2 linked regions of the Homo sapiens genome follow. The protein of the gene in region 1 purifies or fractionates together with the protein of each later gene. This does not show direct contact. Each region holds a gene or a part of one and is shown in the gene's direction. Other genes may lie near its edges.

The links. Proteins that work in one complex are often made in the same cells at the same time.
Region 2: the proteins of PML (region 1) and NDUFS1 purify together in Homo sapiens (affinity purification with mass spectrometry; 4 studies listed by BioGRID and IntAct, with this or other methods). This does not show direct contact.

What each region holds. Positions count from the first base shown.
Region 1 is NC_000015.10:74,039,293-74,043,523, forward strand, and holds part of PML (protein PML), read left to right. Parts: intron 1-3,696; coding exon 3,697-3,847; coding exon of another isoform or gene 3,848-3,888; exon of another isoform or gene 3,889-4,046; intron 4,047-4,231.
Region 2 is NC_000002.12:206,124,945-206,128,809, reverse strand, and holds part of NDUFS1 (NADH-ubiquinone oxidoreductase 75 kDa subunit, mitochondrial isoform 1 precursor), read left to right. Parts: intron 1-837; coding exon 838-1,013; intron 1,014-1,965; coding exon 1,966-2,100; intron 2,101-2,198; coding exon 2,199-2,271; intron 2,272-3,865.

The sequences.
Region 1 (4,231 bases):
GCCGAGTTTATGGTCCAGTTCACTCATAACATGTGCAGTATTCCTGGGGTCTTTGAGGCTTTGCAAGAGCTGGGGTTTTGTGTCTGCAGAAAGATAGCAATGCATGTGTCTTGCCAAACTGATCCCAGCTGTAGCTGATGCTTAAGTGCTCAGAAAGTTCTTCAGGAGCTTGAGGGCTCTTGATAAGCATGAATGTCAGATGTTCTGTATCTTCCAGAGGCTGGATGCTGACTATCAGAGTTTGGCTTGTGTTTGGCTGATGAGCAAACCTGGAATGAATCAGTGATAAGGACAATTGTTCTCAAGCTGGCTGTACACTGGGGAGTTTTCCCAACTACAGATTCCTAGGTCCTACGCCCTGAGATTCTAATCGAATCAGTCTTGGGTGCAGCCTGGGCCTCAGTTTTTTCTTAAAGCTATGAATGCCTAACCAAAGTCAAGAACCACTGAATCGGGGGATTCATTGCATGTCTGTGGTAGAGGAATGCTGCTCATTTGTTTATAGATGTGGCAGTCTTGAATGCAGGTGACATTTTCATACCAGGGTGTAATACCGCAGAGGAGGGGAGAGGCTGGATCTTCCCTGATGTACCTCCTGGACTTTTGGAGTGTGATTACAATGCCAATCCAGCCACTTCCTCTGAGCATGCTTGGGACGACTGTTAGACCTGCTGTGTTGAGTTAGAATGCACTTGACCTGCTCAGGCCGTGAAATCTATGAGGAAGGGGAGTGAGATGGATGTAGCTCATGAGCCAGATTGCAGGTGTATCCAAGTTGCATGTATATCCTGAAAAAATCCTGGCTCTCACGAGGCTCAGCCTGAACACAGTTTTGCATTCAAAGAAACAATGTCCATTAACCAAGTATAATAAAGAAATAAATCCCAGTATTTACTTGCATCTTTTGAAAGAACATTAAAGGGAATCCAGCTCATAACCCCAGCAGCACTTCTTCAGTCCTTCTTCCCCTTTTCTTTGGCGCCTGGCATCTCTCACTGCATAGCAAAGCTTTCCCCCTTGATTCCCGGTCCTCACACGCAGGCTCAAGGCTCTGTTTCCCATCTTCTTTCTTCTGTCCCCCTTCCTTTTCTCTTCCAAGCAAATCTAAGTCTTTTCCAGTGACTGTCCCTCTCTATGCTCCCCCGACACCCAGTTATCCTAATTTGCGGAATAAGGCCAAGGTGTGGGGCCTGGGGGCAGAATGGGAGAGTCTCCCCTAGTGAGCAGGGAGGGGAGTATGTTCTGCACCAGGCCACTATGTCTGATGGCCCTGCTGGCAAACCTGAGTCTTTCAGAAAGTCTTGTTTAAATGCGTCAGCACTCCCCAGCTGTGATGCTGGAGTTTAAGGCGGAGCAGGGGAGAATTCTGGGTTTACAGCTGGCTGGAGTTCCAGTGAGACCAGCTCCATGGGTGGCCATACTTTATGGAAGTCCCCAAGGGCAAGAGGAATTTTGGAGGAAGTGAGTCAGGGCTGAAAGGTCCAGCCTCTCCTCCATTAACAAGCTTGGTGGAAAGGGGGTGTCCTTTTATTAAAGGAGACAGTAGAGGTTTCTTAGAGAAGGCAGCTCGAGTAAGTTTAGGACAAAGGACATTTCCCTGGCCCCGGGACAATGGAAGGCTCTAAAAACGAGGTTCTAGTGGCTGCCATAAATGACCCTGCTGTAACGATGGGAGGGGTGGCCTAAAGAGACAGTACTGTGGCTCTCCAGGGAGCTCTCCTCTTGGAAGAGCAGATCTGAAGGCGGGAAGACTGGTTCTAAGGCCGAGGACATTGCCCCGAGCTTTGTGGAGGCACTCAGGAACACAAAGGGGCATTTCCAGTTGGGTTTGGAGCAGGAAGAAGAACGAAAAAGAGAAAGTCCTGTGTGCCATGTCAGTGGGTGGCAGCATGGACTCAGCCTCAGCTATTGGCACCAAGGATCTGAACCAGGGAGGACCCAGAAGGGGAGCCCAGCCCCTCCACCAGCTTGTGGGAGAGCGCTGCTGCCCAGTGAAGCCTGGAGAGAGGAAACAACTGGATTCTCCCAAAGCGGGAGAAGGTGGAGTCTCCAGCCACCCAGCTACAAGCTAGGAAGACGCCTTGTAGAAGGCTCCTTACAGGGAGGAAACCGAGTTGGAAAGGCGAGACAGCAGTGTGGGCTCACCCGGAGCAAGACGTGTGAAATCAGCTTTTGACAGCGTGGCTGAATGAGGATCTGGAGATGCGAGGCGCTGGGCAGACTCTCTGACTAGATCCCTGGATATGAAGAGGCAAAGCCAGCTCTAGATGGATTCATAGTGAGTGTCTGCTTCTGACAATAACTGGCAGAAAGCTGATGAGCCTGGAGCAGGGCTGTGAAATGCAAATCCAGTGAAATCCAGCCACTCCTACAAAAACCCACCACATCTTAGGTTACTTGTGGGTGGAAACGCTTTTTCTCTCAGTTGAAGCTTGGTTGGAAGCAGATGTTTCACTTGGGCATTGGAAGGGTCTGGGGAAATGTGCTGCCTCCTAGGCCAGGGACATTAGCCAGAGGCCAGAATTAACTGAGGCTTTAGCACCAGGTGACACCAACTTCATTGAGAAGCCAGCGGCAGTCCATAAAGAGGAAAAACCCAAGGCCTGCCCTGGACTCTGTCCCAGCCATGCTCCCAATTGGCCCTGTGATCCTGTCCATGTCTCTTCCTTGCTGGTCTCTGGCTAACGTCCACAGGTGGCATTCATGGGAGGTTCCAAGTTGGTCATCAAAGACTAAACATCTGGGCTTGGCAGCTGAGCAGATGATAAGCAATTAACTCTGTATTACCATCAGAGGCTCCACCTCCCTCTGTAGTCCCAGTCCCTTGGGAAAATCTCAGAGCTGGAGCCCTTCCCTCATCCTCTGGCTCCCCACCCCATGGCTTCTCGAACAGTGTTCCCACCAGGACCTTGGGACAGGAGAGAACGCCTCACCTGAAGGACTCCCAAAACTCAGGTTTCTCTAAGCTGCTGGGGCAGATGCCAAGAGCCTCCACTGCTCTCTCACTGCCAAGGACCTGGGTGTCCACCTAGATGTGGCCTTCAGGAGGCCAAGCAGTCCTTCCCCTCGCCTTTGTGTAGGACACTGGCACCTCGGCTGACTTCGGGGACAAGAAAAGGCAGGCTCCCGACCCCTTCCAAAGAATCATCTGGGGTTCAAGATGAGGCTTCTTTCTCCCGTCCCAAGTTTTGGTGTTTCTTCTGAGTCTGCTCAGAAAGATGAAATTAGGAGCAGACATCTCAGGTCCTGCCTGCCATAGCAGATGGCTCCTTCCCTGAGCCTCCATAAGCAGCACAGCACACTCATGCACACACCCACTGGCATTTTCTCTCACACTTTCATACACTTGTGTCAACGCAGGTTCACAGCTCACACTTAACTGTGCATGCACACACAGATTTAGCACTTGGATTCATTCCCACACATGCACGTTCACAACCTGTGTGTGTCACCCTTCCTCCCCTACTCATGAGGGTGTATGCCCTGGTTCATACATGTAACCCTCACATGTGACACACCCAGTTCACACCCATTCATGCACACATACCTTCTCTTGTGCACACGTCCCCTTTCCCAGTGGTACACCCTCCTTCATGTGCACGCAGATGCTCCCAGCTATACCAGCTTGCTAGTGTTCTGCACAGGTGCTTGCCTTGGCCCTCTGAATCCCTGACGCTTGGTTTTTCTGTGTTGCAGTCCTCCCGAGAGCTGGATGACAGCAGCAGTGAGTCCAGTGACCTCCAGCTGGAAGGCCCCAGCACCCTCAGGGTCCTGGACGAGAACCTTGCTGACCCCCAAGCAGAAGACAGACCTCTGGTTTTCTTTGACCTCAAGATTGACAATGAAAGTGGGTTCTCCTGGGGCTACCCCCACCCCTTTCTAATTTAGTCTCTGAGTCCCAAAAAGAAGTGCAGGCAGAGCCATCTGCCAGGCCCAGGAGAGCTCTGAGCTCTGGCCAACAACTGCAGCCAGGCTGGGCAGAGCACTCCGGCTCACCTGGGCTCCTGGCGTGTCATTTGCTGGCTTGAATAAAGATGTCCGCCTTATCCAGTGCCTGAGTGTGCGAGAGAGGCAGATGCCTCCACAAGTGCACCTCTGACCAGTTCTTCTCTCAGACAGAGAGCCTGGGGAACACACTCCTAGACAGAAACACAATGCGTGAGCTCATTGCCGTGAGCCCTGTCATCCAAGTAAGGCCTCTGGCTGTGCTACACGTTTCTGAGTAGAGGGC
Region 2 (3,865 bases), on another chromosome or scaffold:
TTTTCTTTAAAAAAAAAATTTTTTTTTTTGAGATAGAGTCTCACTCTGTCACCCAGGCTGGAGTGCAGTGGTGTGATCTCGGCTCACTGCAGCCCCAGCCTCACGGGTTCAAACGATTCTCATGCCTCAGCCCTCTTGAGTAGCTGGGATTACAGGCACACACCACCACATTGGGCTAATTTTTTTGTATTTTTAGTAGAGATGCAGTTTTGCCATGTTGGCCAGGCTGGACACAAACTCCTGGCCTCAAGTCATCTGTCCACCTTGGCCTCCCAAAGTGCTGGGATCACAGGCATGAGCCACCACACCTGGCCCCCAAATGCTTTAACAATAATTTTCTTTGGGGCCGGGCGCGGTGGCTCATGCCTGTAATCCCAGCACTTTGGGAGGCTGAGGCGGGTGGATCACAAGGTCAGGAGATCAAGACCATCCTGGCTAAACACGGTGAAACCCTGTCTCTACTAAAAATACAAAAAATTAGCTGAGTGTGGTGGCAGGCACCTGTAGTCCCAGCTACTTGGGAGGCTGAGACAGAAGAATGGCATGAACCCAGGAGGCAGAGCTTGCTGTGAGCCAAGATTGCACCACTGCACTCCAGCCTGGGCGACAGAGCGAGACTCCATCTCAAAAAAATAATAATAATTTTCTTTGGGAAGGGAGTTGAATTAGGGTTGAGGTGGGCTTTAATTTTTATTACTTCACTACTGTTTCATTTTAGTTTTAAAAACTTTTGTGACTTTACAAAATGGGATTTAAAATGATATATACTATCTTCATGTACAGTAGAAAATCAGTTTTTAATAAAATTTTGGTTTACCATTTTCCATCTTTGTGCAGGACATCATGGTGATGTTGGGGCTCCCATAGCTGATGTTATTCTCCCAGGAGCTGCTTACACAGAGAAGTCTGCTACATATGTCAACACTGAGGGTAGAGCTCAGCAGACTAAGGTAGCAGTGACACCTCCTGGCTTGGCAAGAGAAGACTGGAAAATTATAAGAGCACTCTCTGAGGTATAATTTCTGAGTCATTTCTTAGTGATGCTACTAAAGGCATATTTGATATTTTAGCCTGTTAGAATGATTTTCAAAGTCAAGGAAGATGCCAGTCTGAAATGCAGAGATGATTTGAATAATTTCTATAGAAAACATGTATTCAGAAACAGGAATTCAAGGTTACAGTGAGCTCTCATTGCACCGCTGCACTCCAGCCTGAGGGACAGAGCAAGACCCTGTCTCTTAAAAAATAAAGGAACTTGAAATTGGTGCTTTTATTTTATTTTATTTATTTTTGAGACAGAGTTTTTCTCTGTTGCCCAGGCTGGAGTGCAGTGGCGTGATCTCAGCTTACTGCAACCTCCACCTCCCGGGCGCAAGCTTCCTGAGTAACTGGGATTACACGCATGTACCACCAAGCCTGGCTAATTTTTATATTTTTAGTAGAGATGGGGTTTCGCCATGTTGGCCAGGCTGGTCTTGAACTCCTGGGCCTCAAGCAGTCCTCCCACCTCGGTCTCCCGAAGTGCTGGGATTACAGGTGTGAGCCACTGCACCTGGCCTGAAATTGGTGCTTTTATTGTTGAAAATTGTTGACTTGTCTTTTGCCTGAAAATACATCTGTTAGCTCTTTATTGATGTAAAAGTAAGCATCCTGACTTTTAAAATAATAACACATTGTAAACTTTATGTATTTTAATAACAGGTTAGCAAAAACATTTGGATTTAGCATAGTATTGTCTCTTCATTTCATAGAGTCACTAATGTACTGACAGCTGTGAATGAATTAGAATTTTTGATATTTGTGTTCCCTGCTTAACTGCTTCCTTCATAAATGTATGTCTACTAATGGACACCAATAGGTTTTTCAGTAGTGCTGCATTATTTCACCATAGTTACAATTATCTATTATTTGATATTTTTAAGTATTAAAGCTTTTTGTTGTTTTTGGGGACCTGACATGTTGTAGATTGCTGGAATGACTCTTCCATATGATACTCTGGATCAAGTAAGGAACAGATTGGAAGAAGTCTCTCCTAATCTTGTTCGATATGATGATATTGAAGGGGCTAATTACTTCCAGCAAGCAAATGAGCTCTCAAAGGTAACAGCTCGCCTATGAGCAGTTTTCATAATGTTGTATCTACTGGTGTAACAGTACTAGTTTTCCATATTATTGTTGATCTCTTCTTTTTTGTGCAGCTAGTGAACCAGCAGCTTCTTGCTGACCCACTTGTTCCACCTCAGCTAACTATAAAAGACTTCTACATGACAGGTATGTAATTGTCAACATGACTCTGCCAAATACGAAAGGTAAGAAGTAATCAGATCACCTCATTTGGTGTTATAATTCCAATTTGTGATTGATAGTGTTTGCAATTCTTAATCTTTGAAGGTTTTCAAACATTGGAACTAACGTAAGCATATTTTCTGATTCTACTCTAGTTTTTTTGTTTCTGAAATGTAAGCAAAGTTTGAAAATCCAAGCAATTAATAGATTTTAAATATAAAATTTTGCTGTTGTAAGGAAAGTCACTGTGTAGCAATTTATGGTGAATTTTCCAAAGTGGCAAATAACTGCAGGTTTTTCTGAGAATTATAGGTGGAAGAATCAAAACATTTAAATGTGAAACATGTTAAACAGTGCTTCTGATGTAAATTGTTAGGAATGTTTTTAAGGAATGCAGACAAACTGAAACTTGTTTATTGCAGATTCTTAGAACAGTTGATACAACATCTAGGTTATGAGGTAGTTAATAGTTGATAGATTATTTTGACTAATTTTCTATCTAAAAGCACATAGAACTCTTAATTTTTTTATATAGTTTGTATCTAAGATTTTTTAAATAAGTATTTTAGTTAGATAATAAAGATTACCTTCATTGTAAAATAATACCTATGCTCAAAAGCACAACAAAAAATCACTTCTATGGTATTTATCTGCGAACTTATGAACACAAAGAAGGAAACAACAGACACTGTAGTCTACTTGAGAGTGGAGAGTGGGAGGAGGGAGAGGTGCAGAAAAGATAAGTCTTGGGTACTGGGCTTAATTCCTCGGTGATGAAGTATTCTGTACAACAAATCCCTGTGACATGAGTTTACTGGTGTAAAAAGCCTTCACATGTACCCCTGAACCTAAAAGTTTTTTTTTTTTTAAAAAAAGAAAAATCACTACCCTCCCACTATCAAGAAATAACTATAATTATTTTTAACATTTTAGTCACTCTTCCTCCAGGGACATACATATGCATTATACACATATATATTATATTAATTAACTATTGTTATTTATATGTAATTATTACTGTTTACATGTACGTGTGTGTGTGTGTGTGTGTGTATAATTTTTGAGATGAGATTTTACTCTGTCACCCAGGCTGAAGTGCAGTGGCACAATCTTGGCTTGCTGCAACCTCTGCCTCCTGAGCTGAAGTGATCCTCCCACCTCAGCCTCCTCGGTAGCTAGGACTATAGGCGCATACCACCACATCCAGCTAATTTTTGTATTTTTTGTAGAGATGGGGTTTCGCCATGTTACCCAGGCAGATCTCAAACTCCTGGACTCAAGCAGTCCACCCACCTCAGCCTCCCAAAGTGCTGGGACTACAGATGTGAGCCACCACCCCTGGCCTATATATTTTTTAGTGAAACAGAAGGTGAGATTAGGCCTGGTGCAGTGGCTCATGCCTGTAATTCCAGCATTTTGGGAGGCTGAGGGGGGCAGATGGCTTGAATCCAGGAGTTTCAGACCAGCCTGGGCAACATAGTCAGATCTGGTCTCTTTAAAAAAAAAAAAGTGAGATTATTCACTTGGGGGTTGATAGCTTTATTGAAATATAATTCATGTACCCTAAAATTTACTCATG